Homo sapiens: one gene and its partners. The protein of the gene in region 1 purifies or fractionates together with the protein of each later gene. This does not show direct contact. Each region holds a gene or a part of one and is shown in the gene's direction. Other genes may lie near its edges.

Region 1 (7,573 bases):
TGCGCACGCCTGTAATCCCAGCTACGCGAGAGGCTGAGGCAGGAGGATCACTTGAACCTGGGAGACAGAGGTTGCAGTGAGCTGAGATGGCGCCACTGCACTCCAGCCTGGGCGACAAGGGTGAAACTCCATCCCCCCCCCCCCCAAAAAAAAAAAAAGAGAAAAAGAAGAAGAAAAGGGCTCCCTGCTCCTAGTGAGCAAAGGCAGCTTCCTGAGCTTCTACAGCCCTTAGTATTTATTGGGTAACAAGAGCAGAGAGGAGGAGGTAACGATTGAGCAGCTGCTTAATTGATCACAGGTTCATATTGTTACTGACGGGCTTCAATTATGCCTAATCGTAGGAAACATTTGTGCCTGGGTGGTGATGGCCCTCAGCAGCCCTTCTGCACGGCAGACGCAGTTTGTCAGTTTGCCAACATTCTGCATTTACGAGAACAGTTTGCTGTCTACTCATATAGCCCCCCAGTGGTATACTGAGTTGATCACGGCCCTCACTCTTTCGGCCTCCAACACCCCCTTCGCCCACGTTTCCTCCATAGCGCGACGTGCCCTCTGCACTCACGTAAGTTTCACTTATCTGCCTGCCTGTCTCCAAGGGAAAGGGAGGACGAGGAACTTGTGTGTTTTGTCCTCTCCCGTTTTCCCAGCACCTGAGCAGGGCCTGGCCCCAAATAAACACTGGCTGAGTTCCTAATTACGGTGAGAACAAGGGTCTCGGGAGCACCAACGGAGTCACCTCCCACCCAGGACACCCAGGCCGGGCAGTGACGTCCCTCGCCTGCAGCCGGCAGCTGGGCGGGTGGACGTAGGGCCGGCCTCCGGCCTCTCATCCGGTCCAGCCTCCCTTTTTTTCACTGTTGTGATTTAGTCTCTTCTGTCGAGCAGGCAGGATTAAAATCAGGGCTCATCTGCATGTGTGTTGAATTCATTTGCATCTCATTTGCAAGCTCTTTGCTTGGCAGTTGCGACAAGCTCTGAGCTGAAGACAGAGTTGATAGAATCTGGTGCGATCAGATCAGAAGGGGACTGGTGGCTGGAGGGGCCCCAGCTCGTTCTGGCGAGGCTGCCGGCCCTCAGCGTCCTCCCAGCAACATGCTGTCGGCTTGGCCGGCTTCCCATCCTGTCTTCCCTGTGTTAGCTTTTGGTTCCACCCCACGTAAAATGGGGAAACGGAGGCAGGTGGGGCCGAGTCCGGGCTGGAACCAAGTCTCTGGCTGTCTGCCTTTAGTGGCTGTCTGGTGTGGCCTGGACCTGGTGACCCGGATGTGAGGAGGGATGGGGTTGGGGGAACACCTTCCAGGCCCTTGTCCCCTCTGTCTCTTTAGCCGTGGGAGCCCCTGGGGTCCTGCACTTCGGCTGGTTTTGGTGAAGGAGCAGCTTTGGTCGAGGGAGGTTGGGGCCTTTCCTCCTCTCTCCCTCCTCGGCACCCATCCCTGCTGTGGCTCTGGAGTTGTGCTGCCTCTGGAAACGAGCAAATGGTGTGTCCAAGGTTGGGCAGTGACAGGGCCTGTGGGCTGGGGGCCCTCGTGACCGAGGAAGGGGCCAGCGAGGGTTGGTTTGCTGGCAGAGGCATCTCAGGTAGAGAGAGCTCAGGCAGAGGCCGAGGTGGAGACCGTCTTAGGGGCTCGAGGGAGGGAAAGCAGGTCCGGATGGTCAGAGTAGAGCGGCAAAGGGGAAGGAGCAGGACGAGAGGACAGGGGGAGGTGGAGACGAGGCCGTGCAGGGCCTGCGTGCCGTGGCGTGGCGCGTGTCTGCAGTCCCAGCTACCCGGGAGGCTGAGGCAGGAGAATGGCGTGAACCCGGGAGGCGGAGCTCGCAGTGAGCCGAGATCGTGCCACTGCACTCCAGCCTGGGCGACAGAGCGAGACTCCGTGTCAAAAATAAATAAATACACAAATAAAAATAAAAATAAAGACCAGCTTTTTTGGGATGGGGAGGAGGCGTTCTTTTTTTCTCTTTTTTTTGATTTTGACGTGGAGTCTCGCTCTGTCACTCAGGCTGGAGTGCAGCGGTGTGATCCTGGCTCAGTGGTGCAACCTCCACCTCCAGGGTTCAAGCGGGTTCAAGCGAGTCTCCTGCCTCAACCTCCTGTGTGGCTGGGATTACAGACGTGCACCACTGTGCCCAGCTAATTTTTTTATTTTTAATAGAGACGGGGTTTCACCATGGTGGCCAGGCTGGTCTCGAACTCCTGATCTCAAGTGATCCGCCCGCCTCGGCCTCCCAGAGTGCTGGGATTACAGGCATGAGCCACAGTGCCCGGCCAAGGGATTATTTCTACAGTTTTCAATTTCATGGATTTCTACTGTTATCTTTACAATCTTCCTTATACTTACTCTTGTTTTCCTAGCTTCTTAGGTGGAAACTTAGGCCTAGGCTGGAGTGCAGTGGCACAATCTTGGCTCACTGCAGCCTTGGCCTCCTTAGGCTCAAGCAATCCTCTCACCTCAGCCTCCTGAGTAGCTGGGATTACAGGCACACACCACCACTCCTGGCTGATTTTTGTATTTTTTGTAGAGATGGGGTTTCACCATGTTGCCTGGGCTGGTCTTGAACTCCTGAGCTGAAGCAATCTGCTTGCCTTGGCTTCCCAAAGTGCAGGGATTACAGGTGTGAGCCGCTGTGCCCAGCCTTCTTTTCTCATATAAAAATTTAAAGCAACCATTTTCCCTCTAAGTACTTCTTTAACTGCATCCTACACAGTTTAATATGTTGATTTTTTATAGTCATTTAGTTTGAAAATTTTCTAACTTCCTTTGTGATGACTTCTTTGATGCGTGGGTTATTCAGAAGTATGTTGTTTAACTTCTAAATATATTTGGGGGATCCTGGATATCGTATTGTTGGTGATTTCTATTTTAATTCCTTTTTCACCAGATAATATGCTCTGTAAGTTTCAAAAGTTTGATATGTACTAAGACTTGTTTTATGATCCTTTATGTAGACTATACCATTTTGATTAAAAAATTTTAAAACATGCAATACATTAAAATTACATTGCAGGGTGAAATGTATAATTGTATGGTATGTGAATTATATCAATAAAGCTGTTAAAGATGACACTGCAGGCCAGGCACGGTGGCTTACGCTTGTAATCCCAGCACTTTGGGAGGCCGAGGTGTGTGGATCACCTGAGGTCAGGAGTTTGAAACCAGCCTGGCCAACATGGAGAAACCCCATCTCTACTAAAAATACAAAAAAATTGGCTGGGCGCGGTGGCTCACACCTGTAATCCTGGCACTTTGGGAGGCTGAGGCGGTTGGATCACAAGGTCAAGAGATTGAGGCCATCCTGGCCAACGTGGTGAAACCCCGTCTCTACTAAAAATACAAAAAAATTAGCTGGACATGGTGGAGTGTGCCTGTAATTAGCTACTAAAAATACAAAAAAATTAGCTAGACGTGGTGGTGCATGCCTGTAATCCCAGCTACTCGAGAGGCTGAGGCAGGAGAATTTCTTGAACCCTGGAGGCGGAGGTTCCAGTGAGCCGAGATCGCGCCACTGCATTCCAGCCTGGGCGGGGGAGCAAGACTCTGTCTCAAAAAAAAAAAAAAAAAAAAAAAAAAAAAATTAGCCAGGCGTGGTGAAACCCCATCTCTACTAAAAAATATAAAAATTAGTCAGGCGTGGTGGCGGGTGCCTGTAATCTCAGCTACTCAGGAGGCTGAGGCAGGATAATCGCATAAACCCGGGAGGCAGAGGTTGCAGTGAGCCGAGATCGCACCAGCGCACTCCAGGCTGGGTGACAGAGTGAGACTCTGTCTCAAAAAAAAAAAAAAATTACACTGCAAAAGGCTCCAAAAAATACAGAAACAAACAAGGAAGAGACAGGAACGTGCATCTCATCTGGCAGTTTTCTGAGCCTCTTCTTGGAGCCTCACGCAGTGGTCGCCTTGAATGTATCAAAATCCATTGTGGTTTAAATCTCGGAGGCATCTGGGAGGCAGTGAGGACGGCTCTCACCTCCCCGCTGTCCTCGCCGCTGCCCCAGGGCCTCTGCACGGCTGCCTCCTCACCTGCTTTGGGACTGTTCAGTTTTACCTTCTCCGTGGGGCTCACCCACACCCACACTGCTACCCTGGGCCCCAAACCTGTCTGCGTTTTCCCTCACGTTCAGTGCCTCCTCATACACCAGACTGTGTTCACTTATCACATTTACTGACGACTTTCTCTCTCCCATCCTGAGAACATCTCCTTCTTTTCCGTCTGTTCGTGTCCAGTTCTCACCACCCCCAACAGAGGCTGGTACACAGTAGGTGCCCAGTACATGCTTTGGCAGGAATGAGTGACAGGATGAGGCAGTGAATGCTTCTTGGCTCAGAGCTGAAACTCCCAGAGTTGTGTACTTGCTGTATGACCTTGGGCTGTGCCTCAGTTTCCCCAGGTGTAGAAACGGGGCCACGCCACCCACGACCCCGCCAGGCCCTCCTGCTGCAAGGCTGTGGGTGTCATGTTTGCAGGTCTAGTTCCCTGGGGCCGGCCCTGGCCCCAGCTGCCCAGCTCTGCCGGCTCCCGGGAGACGCACTCTGCTGACACCGGACTCTTTCCTGGACCATCCAGCCGCCTGGCCGACACTCGATCCCGGCCCCACTTCCAGGCCAGTGTCCGGCCGACCAGCCTGCCTTGGGCCAGGGCCCCACGACTCCCTGCTGCGGGACAAGAGGCCGTCTGTGCGGCTGTGGTCGTGGGAGGGTGTGGTGAGGCCGTGAAGGTGGGGACGGTGCCTGGGCCTGTGGCCGCCAGAGCTGCTGCGGCTCAGAAGGTAGCACCAGGCCCCGTGGGTGCTGTGGGGGCCATCGCCTGCCCACCATGGGGACCCTCAGCTGCGACTCCACCCCACGGCTGGCCACAGCCCCCCTTGGCCGGCGAGTGACGGAGGGCCAGATTCCGGAGACCGGCCTGAGGAAGTCCTGTGGGACGGCCACCCTGGAGAACGGTGCGTGCCAGCCGTGGGGGATGGGTGGGACCTTTTCCTGCTCCACTCCCCATACTTCTGGGGCTTCTGGAATGTTCTGGGAGCCCAGCAGGAGGCAGGAGTTTCAGGCAAGTCCTTGCCCTTCCCCAGACCTCAGTTTTCCTTCCGGCAGGATGGGTGTGGACACGGGGTTGCCGTGAGCCCCGAGTATGTGTCTGTCCAACGGAAGCTGCGTGCTTTGCCAGCCGGGTCCCCTTCCAGGGGCTGTGGGTACAGCAGTGGGCAAAGCCACAGCGATCATGCGGGAGACGCGGGGAGGAGGGAATATTTCCAGCGTGGCCCTCAGGGACGGGCGCCCTAGACAACGTGGGGCAGGGCGAGGGGCGCGTGTGCGGAGGCGGCTCTGCTGGGAGCCACATCAGCTGCTGGCCTCGGTGAGGGCCCAGGACGGGCCGCAGTTTCCTCACCCACAATTAGCGGCTGGAGTCAGGCCCCAAGCCAGGTCCTCGGGCTGGTTCTGTGGTCTCTCCTGATCCCTGTGGCATCGAGATTCTGCAGAAGCCACAACACATGGCGTCTGTGACCGTGTATCTCTGGGAGGCTCAGGCCTCAGTCTCCCCATCTGTGATCGTGTATCTCTGCCTGGGCCTCAGTTTCCCCATCTGTGACCGTGTATCTCTGCCTGGGCCTCAGTTTCCCCATCTGTGACCGTGTATCTCTGCCTGGGCCTCAGTTTCCCCATCTGTGACCGTGTATCTCTGCCTGGGCCTCAGTCTCCCCATCTGTGACCGTGTATCTCTGCCTGGCCCTCAGTTTCCCCATCTGTGACCGTGTATCTCTGGGAGGCTCAGGCCTCAGTCTCCCCATCTGTGATCGTGTATCTCTGCCTGGGCCTCAGTCTCCCCATCTGTGATCGTGTATCTCTGCCTGGGCCTCAGTTTCCCCATCTGTGACCATGTATCTCTGCCTGGGCCTCAGTCTCCCCATCTGTGACCGTGTATCTCTGGGAGGCTCAGGCCTCAGTCTCCCCATCTGTGACTGTGTATCTCTGCCTGGGCCTCAGTTTCCCGATCTGTGACCGTGTATCTCTGCCTGGGCCTCAGTCTCCCCATCTGTGACCGTGTTTCTCTGCCTGGCCCTCAGTTTCCCCATCTGTGACCGTGTATCTCTGGGAGGCTCAGGCCTCAGTCTCCCCATCTGTGATCGTGTATCTCTGCCTGGGCCTCAGTTTCCCCACCTGTGACCGTGTATCTCTGCCTGGGCCTCAGTTTCCCCATCTGTGACCATGTATCTCTGCCTGGGCCTCAGTCTCCCCATCTGTGACCATGTATCTCTGCCTAGGCCTCAGTTTCCCCATCTGTGACCGTGTATCTCTGGGAGGCTCAGGCCTCAGTCTCCCCATCTGTGACCATGTATCTCTGCCTAGGCCTCAGTCTCCCCATCTGTGACCGTGTATCTCTGGGAGGCTCAGGCCTCAGTCTCCCCATCTGTGACCGTGTATCTCTGGGAGGCTCAGGCCTCAGTTTCCCGATCTGTGACCGTGTATCTCTGCCTGGGCCTCAGTCTCCCCATCTGTGACCGTGTATCTCTGCCTGGGCCTCAGTTTCCCCATCTGTGACCATGTATCTCTGCCTGGGCCTCAGTTTCCCCATCTGTGACCATGTATCTCTGCCTGGGCCTCAGTCTCCCCATCTGTGACCATGTATCTCTGCCTAGGCCTCAGTTTCCCCATCTGTGACCGTGTATCTCTGCCTGGGCCTCAGTTTCCCCATCTGTGACCGTGTATCTCTGCCTGGGCCTCAGTCTCCCCATCTGTGACCGTGTATCTCTGGGAGGCTCAGGCCTCAGTTTCCCCACCTGTGACCGTGTATCTCTGGGAGGCTCAGGCCCCAGTCTCCCTGTCTGTGCCCCAGGGTGAGGGGGGCTGCTGTCCCCAGCTTTTCCTCTGTGATTCATGTCTGACTCACAATGCAGGCATCACATTTTGTCCCCGACGGGCAGCAGCCTCTTGCTCCCCGGGGCCCCCAATCCTCACCATGGAGGGAGAGGGGAACCCAGGCTAAGGCTCAGGAGCTGGGTCCAGGGCTCCTTCTTCGGGGAATCTGGGCCCAGGAGGTGACCTGAGGGCTTTGGGCTGCAGGCTCGGGGCCAGGCTTGTATGTCCTGCCGTCCACCGTGGGCTTCATCAACCACGACTGCACCAGGGTGGCCAGTCCCGCCTACTCGCTCGTCCGGAGGCCCAGTGAGGGTAAGGCGGGCGAGTGGGCGGCTGGAGGCTTCCCTGATCCTCCAATCTCCCCCCAGGAGCACTGATGGGTCTCCTTACCCCTTAGATCCAGGCCCCCAGTTAGTGCGGCAGGAAGCAGGCAGGGCTGGGCTGTACAACCTGCTCCACCTCCTACTTACTGTGAGACCTCAGGCAAGCTGCTGTCCCTCTCTGTTTTTTCATTGATAATGAGAATGGAAGGAGAAAGAGCGCAGTAAGGAGGTGAGTACCTGTACCTGCCTTACCGTGTTTGCAATTCCTTGCTGCCTGGACTCAGGCAAATTGCTTAAGTGCTTTGCAACTCAGTTTCTGTTAAAAGTTAACAATAGCAGGCCGGTGCGGTGGCTCACGCCTGAAATCCCAGCACTTAAGGAGGCTGAGGCAGGCGGATC
Region 2 (7,026 bases), on another chromosome or scaffold:
CTCAAGTCTGTAACTAGTGGGTTTCATTATCAACAGCTTAATTTCTGTGGTCTTGCCTGATATACCATATGATTTGGGGGAAAGAACTTACAAAAATGAAGCTGTGCTGTACAATTTTGTGTATTCTAGAACTTGAGGTTTTGCAGTTTTACTATGTAGAATTATTCTTTACTGAACTGAAGTATTGTGATTTCATACTTAAGAAAGTTGAGTTGAACTGTGGTTTTTGTAAATTATTATTTGTGGCTCTTAAAAGGTGGAGGGTCTCTTTTAGAAAATCTCCTTGGCATGCTTCGTAATACTAATTTTAAGTATTTTATCTATATCTATTTTACAAAGATAGTGGAAAGTGTGATCTACCCACACACACATTTTACAATATGTTACTTAGTATTTTGTGAAGTCATATTGTCATTTCTAAAGTTTTTAATTGACGTTGTGACATTTTTTATTACCTGTTGAAAGATATTTGTTCTTTGAAACTTTTCATCCATTAGATGTTTTCGTTATCTTCATTTCAGTTGTAAATTTGGCAAATTTAGTACATAGTCTGTTGAGACTTCTCATTAAATAAATTAATTGTATTAGGTTTATGAAAGAATAATGGTAGAAAGGGAAATATTTAGCAGAAGCATTTTTTTGCTTCATTATTTTGAATTATTAAGCACTTGAAAATGAGATTATGATAATTAATGTAACATGGATATTCTAATTATACTTTTTTTTAAATCAGGAAAATGAGAACATATATGTATATAAAATAGGCTGTATGTGGAAACATTTTATGTTGAATATTATTGTCCATCTCTAACAACAATAACTTTGTTCGAAACTGTCTTATGTTGACTTGACAGAAATGAAAGTCACATGGTGTTTGGTGACCTAAGGTCTAGTTTGAAATATTTCTGTGTCTAATTAGTTGTCTACTTGTATTACTATTTATAGAAGAGACTAGAGGTAATATGGTAATGAGTAACATGAAGCAAATAAACAAGTATCTGCTACTTGAAAACTAGAAACAGGATGTGGTGCAGATGTAGAATTTTTTTCTAACAGCTTTAGTAGTGATTATACTTGAAGTCAATCTTACCAGTTACATAGCAGGCTCACTATATCTGGAATATGTCACTCTTCACATACTTTTTTCTATTTTGAAAGAAGCTGTTTATCAAAGCAGCATACTAGTTTTACCTGTAAAAGCTCTACAGAAACATTACTAGGAAAATAATGACTACATGTATGTATAGAATGTAGAATCATATAGATTATTCCATTGGCTACTGAATATCGTATTAGTTCGCTACAGCTAATGTTTGATACCAAGGTACTTAGCTGAAGATGATAATCCATTACCTAAATTGTCACTAATAGGGGCATGAATGAGAAAAAGGTACAAATTTTTGGGAAAGGGCATTTTTAAAAATCATATTTTTGCTGTAGTAATATACATTTTAATTGCACTAACCTGTTGATTTGAAATCAGTAAGAGATACTGGAACAAATATAAGACTAGGTACTAGAGATTAGTTAAAAGACTAATTGTAAATGAGAACATCAAAATATTACAGTAACAGGTAGGGAGTATTTCAGTTATTCATAAATGAAGTCATTCAAAGTATTAAAAAAACAAGCTTGAGCCAAGCAGATGCTACTGTCATAACTCTGCAATTGTTTAAGCATTTACTTTTTTACATTCTTGAAACCTGTTCTGGTATATTATGTGTCAATATTATTTTCTGAAAAGCCCATTTATTGATAAGGATATATACATATTATATCTGTTTTGAGAATAGATGTCATTAAGTAGGCAAATTACTATTAAATCCTACTAAGTGGAACTGTATGTTCTGCCTAACTTAGCTGTTTTTTTAATATGTGTTTTTAATATTGATCTATATGACTTGAAAGGAATCCTATTTCTTGAAATAGATTGTTATTTTGTGAATTTTTTGTTGAAAGCAATGTATTAGAGAATTAAATGTTTAGGCAAAGTAGGAAAATGTTAAATTAATTTCTAATGAATATACTTAGTACTATTATCATTGGTCAAAGACTTGAAAAAGTATTAGTTGCTATACAATAAGAATTTTAACTATATTAAAAACACATGTGACAATTTGACTTCAAAGTGAATATACTTAATACTATCATCACTGGCCAAGGACTTGAAAAAGTATTAGTTGCTATACAATAAGAGTTTTAAATACATTAAAAACACATACAACTATTTGACTTCAAGCAGGCATATAGTGGAAAGTCAATAGTATGTTTTTAGGGAGGAAGTGACGAATAAGAGTCTATTTTTAATCTTGCTAGTGATAGATTCCTGGCTAAGTTGAACAGGGTGTTTTTAAAAACAATCAGTAAAATAGATAAAATCTATTACTCTGTTTCTGTAAATAGGATTGAAGAATAATGAAGCATATTTGGAATTTGAAAGGTATTAAAAAAAGATCCTGAAAAAGAAAGTAGTGAAACCACAAAGGATTTCTTCCTTCACATCTGGGCAGAGAAGATAAATACCAAGGAAGAAGAAAAGATTGTTTAACCTACTTAAAAGTAATTGGGACTGTAGTCAATATGAATGGCATCTAATCTCACTTTCATTAAAAAGTTTTTTTGAGTGACCTCTCAAAAAGGAAATGTTTAATGAAGTATTGCTAGGTAGAAGTTCTATCCAGGTTCTTTAATGAATTTATAAACTAAATTGTTTTTAATAAATTAATTTTAACTAAGTAGAGCTTCTTGAAAATTTTGTGTTTAAACAACCCCAACAATTTTAACAGTAGCTTTGTCAGTATTTATACATTTCGAAAGAGTGTAATTAAATTTACCATGCTTTAAAAAGAATTCTTAATTTGAAAAATAAAGCAGCAAGGAAATGAAATATGATGAAGGAATTGTCACCATAATTTGGGGCATTCTTCTCAAACTGGAGTACATGACATTGTGTCAAGGGATACCTATAAGGCTTAGAATCTAAGCCACAGGAACAAACATAATAATTTTTTAAGTACCAATTTTACTTGATGGTATTAATTTAAATAACTTTAATATTAAGATAAGCATAAGTAAATTAGGCACAAAGTATAGAATTCATATGAGGCTTTAAGATGAAATTAGAAACTTCAAAGAAATTTCAAGTGAGCCCATTATATTTCAAGTGAGCTCCAGATCTCGTCATTCTTCTGCGTTATTGACACTTCATGGCAAAAAATTTAAGGAGCACTGAATCATAGAAAGAACACTGTAAGAACTATGTTCTCATACTATTCTGGCTAGTAAAGTTTTGTAACCTTCAGTATATTGTGTAACCCTCTCTCAGCTTTTCTTACCACTAAAATGAAGAAATCACTCTCTAAGATCACTTCAAGGCTCTCATGGCAGTATATGTTTCTATCTTTTAGCATTCTGACCAGCAGGAAAGAGAAATATAGGATATTAGACCTAGTTAATTTTTTTCTGTCTTTATAATGGGAATGATTATAGGGGAGGGTAGGTTATACATAAAAATGCAAGAGAATAAGAAATAGAATAATGATCAAAGAAGGAAAATATTTAGATTTTTTATTTAGAAATTTTTGTGACATTAATCTTTCTGTTATTAGCAATCTTACACTTAGGTTTCAGACACAGCTCAGGACTGACTTTGTCAATAAAATATTTCCTAGGAATTATTCTCTTCAATGATGTCTTTCTTTGTTTTCCTTACAACGTTTATAAATGTTGTCTATACCCTGTAATCTATATGTGGGAGGCTGCATGGTGTAGCTTAAAAAGGATAGAACTTTGGAGTCAGATAGACTTGGACTTCAGACCCTCATTTGCCCTTTATTTTGGGAAGTCATTTCACCTCTCTGAATTTCAGTTTTCTTCTCCGAAATGAAGATGGCAATATCTACTTTACAAAGTTTTCAGAACTAATAGAGGTAACGCATATGAAAATGCCTAGCATTTTCAGATGAGATACTCAGTTATTTTTGGTTCCTTCCTCTTTGTATGTTGCTTTGGGAGCAACTTGCCACAGTTTCGTGTATACATGTCTTATTCAAAGTAGATTTTAAAGTTCTTGAGATATATGGTTATGTTCTTTACTTCTTTTGTGCCCTTTTGTCATAGCATCTGTTAATGAAGTAATTGGATAGAAGGTGTTTAATAAAAAAATTGGGTGGTGTAAAATTTATATAGTACCTTAAGAAACATTTAGGTAAACCAGAACTTGGCTATTATTACTAAAAGGATAGTTTAGGGTAGATGGAGTGAAGTTGATTAGTTTTTAAAAGGTATGTTTTTCTGGTAATAGGATGATATTTATAACGATGTGTGTTTGAGATGTTTTATAGCATTAAATTTTGTATATTGTTTTAGTTGGGTGTTGTTTGTGTGAGGATAATTTTAGACTAATGAAATTTGATATCTAAAAACTAAAAATTTGAAATTATAGGTAAAAAAATTCTGAAAATGCTGTTAATGTTGATTCTGGTGATCAAAATAACACTGTTAGGAGTCAAAAGTTATGCCTCTTCTCCCACTTTCAAGATAAGCACATTTTACCACAGTTTCCTTACCTTTAAATGGGGGTAAGTGTGTTTACCTTGATGGGTTAATGTGAGAAATGAAATAATGTATTCAGTATTCAACACCTACTATGTACCAAGGCCCTGTGCTAAGTGAAGGATACAATAGTGATTAAGACAGTTCAATCTTTCTTGTCTTGAAGCATATATTCTAGCACTACTGTGAAAACATTATTCAGTCAAGTTGAATATTGACACATTCATGCTTCATTTATGTTTCAAGGAATAAGGTGCTTTTATATTTTATTTTTTAAGTAGATAACAAGTACAAGCACCAAAACTGTTTTTATGTCAAGCCATTTTTTTGATACACATTTTTTTTTTTTTGAGACGGACTCACTCTGTCGCCCAGGCTGGAATGCAGTGGTGCGATCTCAGCTTGCTGCAACCTCTGCCTCCCGGGTTCAAGTGATTCTCCTGCCTCAGCCTCCCGAGTAGCTGGGATTACAGGCGCCTGCCACCATGCCTGGCTAATTTTTTTTTTTTTTTTGTATTTTTAGTAGAGACAGAGTTTTACCATGTTGGCCAGGCTGGTTTTGGACTCCTGACCTCAAGTGATCTACCTGCCTTAGCCTCCCAAAGTGCTGGGATTACAGATGTGAGCCACCGTGCCTGGCCAGCAATTATATTTCTACATTCTATTCTGAATATCTGTTACTGTGACATGATAGTATGTTTCCATAACGTATATGCTTTTCAGGTTTTACCCACTTGCCCTTCCTCTTCCTGCCCTGCCCTTCTAATCTACTATATCCTTGGGAACCACATAAACTTGCTAAGAATTATTTGTGATATTACATCCAGTTAGATTTGAAGTGAGGGTCTAAAGGCACATATTTTCACTTTTGGGTTCAGGGCATCAGAAAATGAGTGGATATTACTATAATAAATAGCTTTATTTCTTTGTATAGTACTTCACGATTTCAGGATCATGGCTAAATGTGTCTGCCTGATGCTGTAAATGTTAATAAAAATCCACTCTATGAGTGAAAGAGATTAAGTGCAATTTGAATGCTAAGTAAAAATGAAATGTTTCTTTTAATTATTTCTTGTTCTTTTAAAAAACACATTAATGTGCACTTGAAATTAATAATCTTTAAAGTCTAATTAATGGTTAAGAACTGTTGGATATCTTATAAATAAGAAACTGAGCCAGGCACAGGGGCTCACGCCTGTAATCCCAGCACTTTGGGAGGCTGAGGCGGGCAGATCACGAAGTCAGGAGATTGAGACCATCCTGGCCAACATGGTGAAACCCCACCTCTACTAAAAATATGAAAATTAGGCAGGCATGGTGGTGTGTGCCTGTAATCCCAGCTACTCGGGAGTGAGGCAGGAGAATCACTTGAACCCCTGAGGCAGAGATTGTAGTGAGCCAAGACTGTGCCACTGTACTCCAGCCTGGCCACACAGTGAGACTCCATCTCAAAAAAAAAAAAAAAAAAAAAAAAAAGAAGAAACTGAATAGAGTAAAAATACTATTTTCAGATGTAAAAAGATGAAGGAACATTTACACGGTGGTGCCCCCCTCTTCACTTTCACCTAAGAGTCTATACAGAACATTTTGATTATAGTCTAAACTTTAAAAATTATGCTTTCATAAAATTAACATCCACATTGTAGAAGTTACGTTTGGATTAAACTGCAAGTGGGCACTACCCAAAGCAATCTACAGATTCAATGCAGTCCTATCAATGACATTCTATACCAATGACATTCTTCACAGAAATAGGGAAAAAAAAGTTAAAATTTGTATGGAACCATAAAGGACCTGGAATAGCCAAAGCAATCCTGAACAAAAAGGACAAAGCTGGAGACATCATACTATCAGACTTTAAAATATACTACAGAGTGATAGTAACCAAAACAGCATGGTACTGGTGTAAAAACAGACACATAGACCAAAGGAACAGAATCGAGAACCCAGAAATTAATCCTCATATCTACAGCCAACTGAGTTTTGAGAAAGGTCCCAGGAACATTTGCTGATGAAAGGACAGTATCTTCAAGAAATGTTTCTGGGAAAAAGGATATCCATATGCAGAAGAATGAAACTAGAGCCCCACCTCTTATTCTGTACAAAAATTAACTCAAAATGAATCAAAGACCTACATGTAAGACAGGAAACTATGGAACTGCTAGAAGAAAACATAGGGGAAATGTTTCAGGACATTGGTCTGGGAAAAAATTTTATAAATAAGACCTCAAAAGCACAGGCAAAAAAAGCAAAAATAAACAAGTGGATTATAGTAAACTAAAAAGCTTTTATACAGCAAAGGAAATAACCAACAGAATGAAAGGCAGCCTATAGAATGGGAGAAAATATTTGCAAACTGTTCATCTGACGGGGGATTAATATCTAGGATATACAAGAAACTCAAACATCTTAACAGCCAAATAAATAAATAAATAAATAAATAAATAACCCAGAAAAAAACAAAACAAAAAA
Region 3 (7,026 bases), on another chromosome or scaffold:
ATATTGGTGATTCGTGTCTTCTCTTTCTTTGTTTTTGTCCATATTGGTAGACTTGTATCATTTTATTGATTTGTTTCCCAGAGAACCAGACTTTTGTTGGATATTCCCTGTTGTCTTCCTGTTTTCAGTGTCATTGATTTCTACCCTCGTGTTTATTGTTTCCTTCTGTCTGCTTGCTTTGGGTTTATTTTGCTCTTCTTTTCTAGTTCCTTGAGGGAAGAACTTACTGACTTGAGACCTTTCCCTGTTACTAGTAAGCATTTAGTTCTATCAGTTTCCCTCTCTGCACTGCTTTAGCTATTTCTGACGTATTTTGGTATGTTGTATCTTCGTTGTCATTCACGTCTATGTATTTTTTGGTTTCGTTTGAGGCTTCCTCTTTAGCCCACCCCTACTTAGAATTGTGCTGTTCAATTTTGCTGTGTTTAGAGATTTTCTGTTGTCTCCCTATTACAGATTTCTAGTTTGATTCAATTATGGTTAAAGAACACACACTGTATGGTTTTGATTATTTTAAGGCTCTTGAGGTTTGTTTTATTACTCGGGATATGGACTGTCTTGATGGATATTCCATGGGTGCATGAAACGTGTATACCACTACGGTTGTGTGGAGTGTTCTTTGTATGGCAATTGCATCATGTTGATTAATTGAGTTATTCAGCTCTTCTGTTTCCATGCTGATTTTCTGTCTAGCAGTTCTATCACTTGATGAGAGGGGCATGGAAGTCCCCAGCTGTAATTGTGGATTTGTCTATTTCTCCTTCCAACACTGTCAGTTTTTCTTGATTTCTTCTGGGCCTCTTGTTTGATACTCACATGTATATTAGGGTCTTTGTGTCTCCCTAGTGGATTGATCTTTTTATCATAATGTAATACCTCTCTTTCTAATAATTTTCCTTGCTCTGGAGTATACTTTATTGTATATTACTGTGACCAGACCTGCTTTTAAAAATTGTTTGGACTTTTTCCATCCTTTTACTTTCAAACTATTGATGTTATTGAATTTGAAGTGAGTTTCTTGGAAACAGCCTATAGCTGGGTCATGTTTCTTTACCCACACTACTGATGTTTCTTTTGATTGGTGTATTTAGACCACTTACATAAAAGGTGATTATTGGTATGGTAGAGCTTAAGTCTACCATTTGATTATTTGGTTTCTTTATGTTTCTTCTGGTTCTTGTTCCTCTGTTTCTTTTTTCTTGCCTTGCTGTGGATTACTTGAATATATTTTAGGATACTGTTTTATTTATAGTACCTTTGGGTGTATTTGTATAGTTTTTATGATGGTTGATGTGAGTATTACAATATATATATGTGACTTATAGTCGATTGGTAACAACATTTATTACTTTGAGTCACCTTACTTTTATTTAGGTCACTTTACCTTTTTCATTTTTAAATATTGTTGTCTTAAATATCAGACAGTATTATGATTTTTGTTTTAATCATCAAGTATGATTTGTAACACTGATTAATAATGATGCTTGAGGAGAAGCATAATTTATTATATGTAGCCCAAATTTCTACTCTATTATTCTTCCCTCCTTCCTGATGCTTCAAGATTCCTTCTTTTATTATTTCCTTTCTATTTGAAGAAATTCCTTTAGCCAGTCTCAGGGTATGTCTGCTAGTGACACATTCTTTTGGTTTCCATTTGTGTGAGACTACCTCTGTTTTTAGATTTAGTTTCCCAATTTTTTTTTTTAATTTTTTTTGGAGACAGTGTCTTGCTCTGTCACCCAGGCTGGAGTACAATGGTGCAATCTCTGCTCACTGCAACCTCCGCCTCTTGGGTTCAAGCAATTCTTGTGCTCAGCCTCCTGTGTAGCTGGAACTACAGGCGCATGCCACCACACCCTGCTAATGTTTTGTATTTTAGTAGAGACGGGGTTTCACCACGTTGGCCAGGCTGGTCTCGAACTTCTGAGCTCAGAAAATCCACCCACTTTGGCCTCCCCAAGTGCTGAGATTACAGGCATGAGCCACCATGCCCAGCCCTAGTTTGCTAATATTTTACTTAGGATCTTCTATACTCACTACTGAGGTTGGCCATTAATTTCCCCTTCTTACCCTGTCCTTGTCCTGTCTTGATACCAAAGTTAGAATGAGCTGAAGAGCTTGTCCTCTCTTTTCTCTGGAACAGTGTATGTAATAATAGGGATTACTTGTTCCTTGAAAGTTGTTAGAAGTTGCTTATAAGCCATCTAGACATGGTGCCATGGTGGGTTTTGTTGTGAGCGGGGTTTTTTTGTTTTGTTTTGTTTTGTTTTGTTTTTTATCAGTCTTTACAATTGATTGGGTGTGAGGGACAATGGAAAGATCATCCCACTCTTCCCCAACAGTTGGTGATTCTCTGGTCATTTTAACAGCAAGAGAGGAAACAGTAATTTTACCAGCAATATGAATGTGAAGAAGTAGTTTTCTGAAAGCAGATGATGAAAATGGGGTGGGGAACCTAATCAGGTTCTGCAGGTGCCTGCAGTAATTCAGCGTATGAGATGGATATGAGAAATTCTTAGAAGAATCTAAAATCCTTATTAAACCTGAAGGTTGAATTCATCTCCAATACTGAGCTGCTAATATAGAGCAGTAGGGAATCACTGTAGATTAACCCCTTTAGTTTCTTGCTGGCTGAAGAAAGGTCTAATGACTCGGAAGCCTTTGAAAACCAAAGCATACATCCTTCTGGAATTTCCTTTTCTGCTGAAAGAAATACTAGCAGTGGCATGTGTGTGGTCCAGCCTCTTCAGCCGCACGATTCAAACACATCATATTCTAAAAGTCAGCAAGGCCACCACAGCTAATTACAACAACCCGAACAATACTGGCTAATTTCTTGTATTGGAAGCTTTGCCAGTGATGATGAAATGAATGTCATCCATTGTATCCCTTATTTTTGATAGCTGCAAAATTCTCCAGTTGTTCACATGTGTATATTTTGGTGCAGTAGTAAGACCTTTCACAAGCTTGCGAACTCTTCCAAACAGCTTCCAGACTCTACCCAACCTTACTTAGGCCTGATATAATTCTTTCTGTGTGCTAAGACAGTGTGAGATAGTACACAGTATCTTTTAGTTGGAGAAGGCAGCCCTCTAATCCTTAAAGCTTTTATTTCTGCAAAAACAATGAATCTGCTTTTATCACTGTTCCCTTAGTCTAAAGAATTGACTCATTTGTCAGCCTGAGGGAAGCTTTCCTTTTAGGACATTCTGCTTCTATCTTTCTTTCTTTTTTTTTTTTTTTTTTTTTTTTTTGAGTCTCATCCTGTCGCCCAGGCTGGAGTGCAGTGACACAATCTTGGCTCACTGCAACCTCCGCCTCTGGGGTTCAAGCGATTCTCCAGCCTCAGCCTCCCAAGTAGCTGGGATTACAGGTGTGCGCCACCACACCTGGCTAAGTTTTCATATCTTTAGTAGAGATGGGGTTTCACCATGTTGGTCAGGCTGGTCTCGAACTCCTGACCTCATGATCCACACGCCTCATCCTCCCAAAGTGCTGGGATTACAGGCATGACATTCTGCTTCCTAAGAACTTTGTGCAAATCACCAATGGGCACTTAGGCTGAAGTCCCAACTCCAGGCCCTTCTTGGCCTCTACACAGCACAATATAAGGGGCCCCAAATTGGACTGCCGAGAAAGAAGTGTGACTTACTGCTTTTCGTTCTCTGGGGCAAGGGAGAGAACAGAGTTAGTGGAAATGCACGTATGCAGTTGGTTCAAGGAGATCTCTGTCTGACAGCACTTTTGCTCCTAGAGCCCCAACGGTAAACTGACTGATTTCCTGAGCTTCTATACGCTCCCCTCCACGGTGATGCACCACCCTGCTCACAAGAGCCTCAAAGCCGCCTACTCATTCTACAACATCCACACAGAGACGCCCCTGCTGGACCTCATGAGCGACGCGCTCATCCTGGCTAAATCGGTAAGCCACTCCTTCCTGTTCACGCCGTTTGGTTCTCCAAATGTCTGTGCCAAACTATAGAAGACATCTTACTGTGTTTTCTTCCACACAGGTGGAATTTATGCGAGACTTTAAAAAAACTATTGATCATCAGTCAAAGGAAGAATTTTGATAAGAGTTTCTTTTGAAACTTTAGAGGCTATTTTCATCATTAATTTTATGGCAGTTTAACAAAAAAGACAAAATGTACAAATTATAAATGTTTAATCCTTATATAAGAATATATAAGGCTGGGCATGGTGGCTCAGGCTTGTAATCCCAACACTTTGGGAGGCCGAGATGGGTGGATCACCTGAGGTTAGGAGTTTAAGACCAGCCTGGTTAATATGGTGAAACCTCGTCTCTACTAAAAATACAAAAGTTAGCCAGGCTTCGTGGTGTGTGCCTGTAATCCCAGCTACTCGGGAGGCTGAGGCAGGAGAATTGCTTGAACCTGGGAGGCAGAGGTTGCAATGGAGCTGAGATTGCACCACTGCACTCCAGCCTGGGTGACAGAAACTGTCTCAAAAAAAAAAAAAAAAAAAAAAAAAAAAAAAAAAATATATATATATATATATATATATATATATATATATATATATAAAGCCCATATCTTAGGAAGTAATATAAGGAAAATATTAATACATGAGTGAATATTTTTGTTGAGTGAATAACTAGCAGCAATTTTTTTATTCAACCAAATAGTCTCTGAATTTTAAAATTAAAGGAATGAAATTCAAAATTTAATTGTAGCCAGTCTACATGGTGAAACCCTGTCTCTACTAAAAATACAAAAATTAGCAGGGTGTGATAGCACACACCTGTAATCCCAGCTACTCGGGAGGCTGAGGCAAGAGGATTACTTGAACCTGGGAGTTGGCGGTTGCAGTGAGCCGAGATTGCACCATTGCATTCCAGCCTGGGCCACAGAGTGAGACCCTGTCTCAAATTAATTAATTAATTAAAATAAAATAAAATAAAAATCTCTTACCTGTGCCTTTGGATCCCCAAGTCAACATCATCCTCAGATTGTCTGCTTTTTTTCAACACTTCCCAAATATGGCCAGTAATTAGTTATTTAAGGTAAAAACCCTGAGAAATAAAAATAAAAAGTGCTTCTTCTATATCACATTTTGCATAGTATTATTGTCTGACATTTTAAAGAAATTTAATTTTTTACCATTAAAATTTTACATAAATATATTTCCCATTATCAGCCCAAAGCAAACATACTATTTTTTTATACTTTTTTTTTTTTTTTTTTTTTTGAGATGAGTCTTGCTGTGTTACCCAGGCTGGAGTGCAGTGGCACAGTCTCGGCTCACTGCAACCTCTGCTTCCCATGTTCAAGTGATTCTCTTGTCTCAGCCTCCAGAGTAGCTGGGACTATAGGTGTGTGCCACCACACCTGGCTAATTTTTGTATTTTTAGTAGAGACAGGGTTTCATCATATTGACCCGGCTGGTCTCGAACTCCTGACCTCAGGTGATCCACCTGCTGCGGCCTCCCAAAGTGCGGGGATTACAGGCGTGAGCCACCACGCCCGGCCTGCATACTATTTAAAGTCTTTACAACTTTGGTCCCTGGGCAATAGCTTCAGCCAAGGTAGGACTTAGAAAGGCTAATAATTAATAATCCTGGAGATGAAACCATCTTGACAACTGTTCCCTTCTAAAACAAGAACGAGGCTGGGTGCAGTGGCTCATGCCTGTAATCCCAGCACTTTGGAAGGCCAAGGCAGGTGGATCACTTGAGGTCGGAGTTCAAGACCAGCCTGGCCAACACGGTGAAACCCGGTCTCTACTAAAAATACAAAGAAATTAGCTGGGCATGGAGGTGCACACCTGTAATGCCAGCTACTAGGAAGTTTGAGGCAGGAGAATTGCTTAAATCTGGGAGGTGGAGGTTGCAGTGAGCCGACATCATGCCACTGTATTCCAGCCTGGATGACAGAGTGAGACTCCATCTCAAAAAAATTTAAAAATAAATAAATAAAACATAAATAAAATATTTTCTGAAATCTTCATAAGTAATTTTATGCCAGTGACAGCCATCATACTACATTTTTAACATTTTTGGGATTCAGCGTTTCTGAATTTTCATGCTGACTTCATTGGATTCACTATAGTTTGTTTGTTTTTTGAGACAGGCGCTCACTCTGTTGCTCAGGTTTAAGTGCACTGGCACAATCACAGCTCACTGCAGCCTCGACCTCTTCGGCTTATGCAATCCTGCCTCAGCCTCCTGTGTAGCTGGGTCCACAGGCACACACCACCATGCCGAGTCAATCTTTTTATTTTTGTAGAGACAATGTCCTGTACCTACACCTACACCTATACCTACAGCCTATGCCCAGGCTGGTTTCAAATTCCTGGGCTCCAGTGAGCCTCCCACCTTGGCCTCCCAAAGTGCTGGGATTACAGGCGTGAGCCACCACATCCAGCCACACTGCTAGTTTTATAAGACAATTTTCAACTGAATTCTTCCTCTTTTTAAAGAAAGAAAAAAAAAAAGTCTCACTCTGTCGCTCAGGCTGGAGTGCCGTGGCACAATCTCGGCTCACTGCCACCTCTACCTCCCAGGCTCAAGCAGTTCTCCTGCCTCAGCCTCCTGAGTAGCTGGGACTGCAGGTGTGCGCCACCACATCTGGCTTATTTTTGTTATTTTTAGTAGAGATGGGGTTTCGCCATGTTGGTCAGGCTGGTCTCGAACTCCTGACCTCAAGTGATCCACCCACCTCAGCCTACCAAAGTGCTGGGATTATAGGCATGAGCCACAGCATCCGGCCCTGAATTCTTAACCTATGCTATATATCACGGACGTTAAATCCTATTAGAAATGCATATTCGAGCTATTAGTAGAATTGTTAAACTGAGATATGTAATACAGAAAACACTAGTCCTTTGTTTTAAATTTTAAATCTTTTTTAAATTGGCAGAAAGGATTTGATGTATTCAATGCACTGGATTTGATGGAAAATAAGACATTCTTGGAAAAACTCAAGTTTGGTATAGGAGATGGCAATTTGCAGTATTACCTGTACAATTGGAGGTGTCCAGGTACAGATTCTGAAAAGGTAAGTGAAA

What was found. The genes of interacting proteins can lie anywhere in the genome.
Region 2: the proteins of CIMAP1D (region 1) and GPHN purify together in Homo sapiens (affinity purification with mass spectrometry; 3 studies listed by BioGRID and IntAct, with this or other methods). This does not show direct contact.
Region 3: the proteins of CIMAP1D (region 1) and NMT2 purify together in Homo sapiens (affinity purification with mass spectrometry; 3 studies listed by BioGRID and IntAct, with this or other methods). This does not show direct contact.

Annotation. Positions count from the first base shown.
Region 1 is NC_000019.10:471,984-479,556, reverse strand, and holds the start of CIMAP1D (protein CIMAP1D), read left to right. Parts: upstream 1-4,573; 5' UTR 4,574-4,809; coding exon 4,810-4,936; intron 4,937-6,925; exon of another isoform or gene 6,926-7,055; coding exon 7,056-7,163; intron 7,164-7,248; exon of another isoform or gene 7,249-7,403; intron 7,404-7,573.
Region 2 is NC_000014.9:66,511,123-66,518,148, forward strand, and holds part of GPHN (gephyrin), read left to right. Parts: intron 1-7,026. UniProt on the Homo sapiens protein: Microtubule-associated protein involved in membrane protein-cytoskeleton interactions. It is thought to anchor the inhibitory glycine receptor (GLYR) to subsynaptic microtubules.
Region 3 is NC_000010.11:15,109,692-15,116,717, reverse strand, and holds part of NMT2 (glycylpeptide N-tetradecanoyltransferase 2), read left to right. Parts: intron 1-3,754; coding exon 3,755-3,922; intron 3,923-4,931; exon of another isoform or gene 4,932-5,190; intron 5,191-6,878; coding exon 6,879-7,016; intron 7,017-7,026.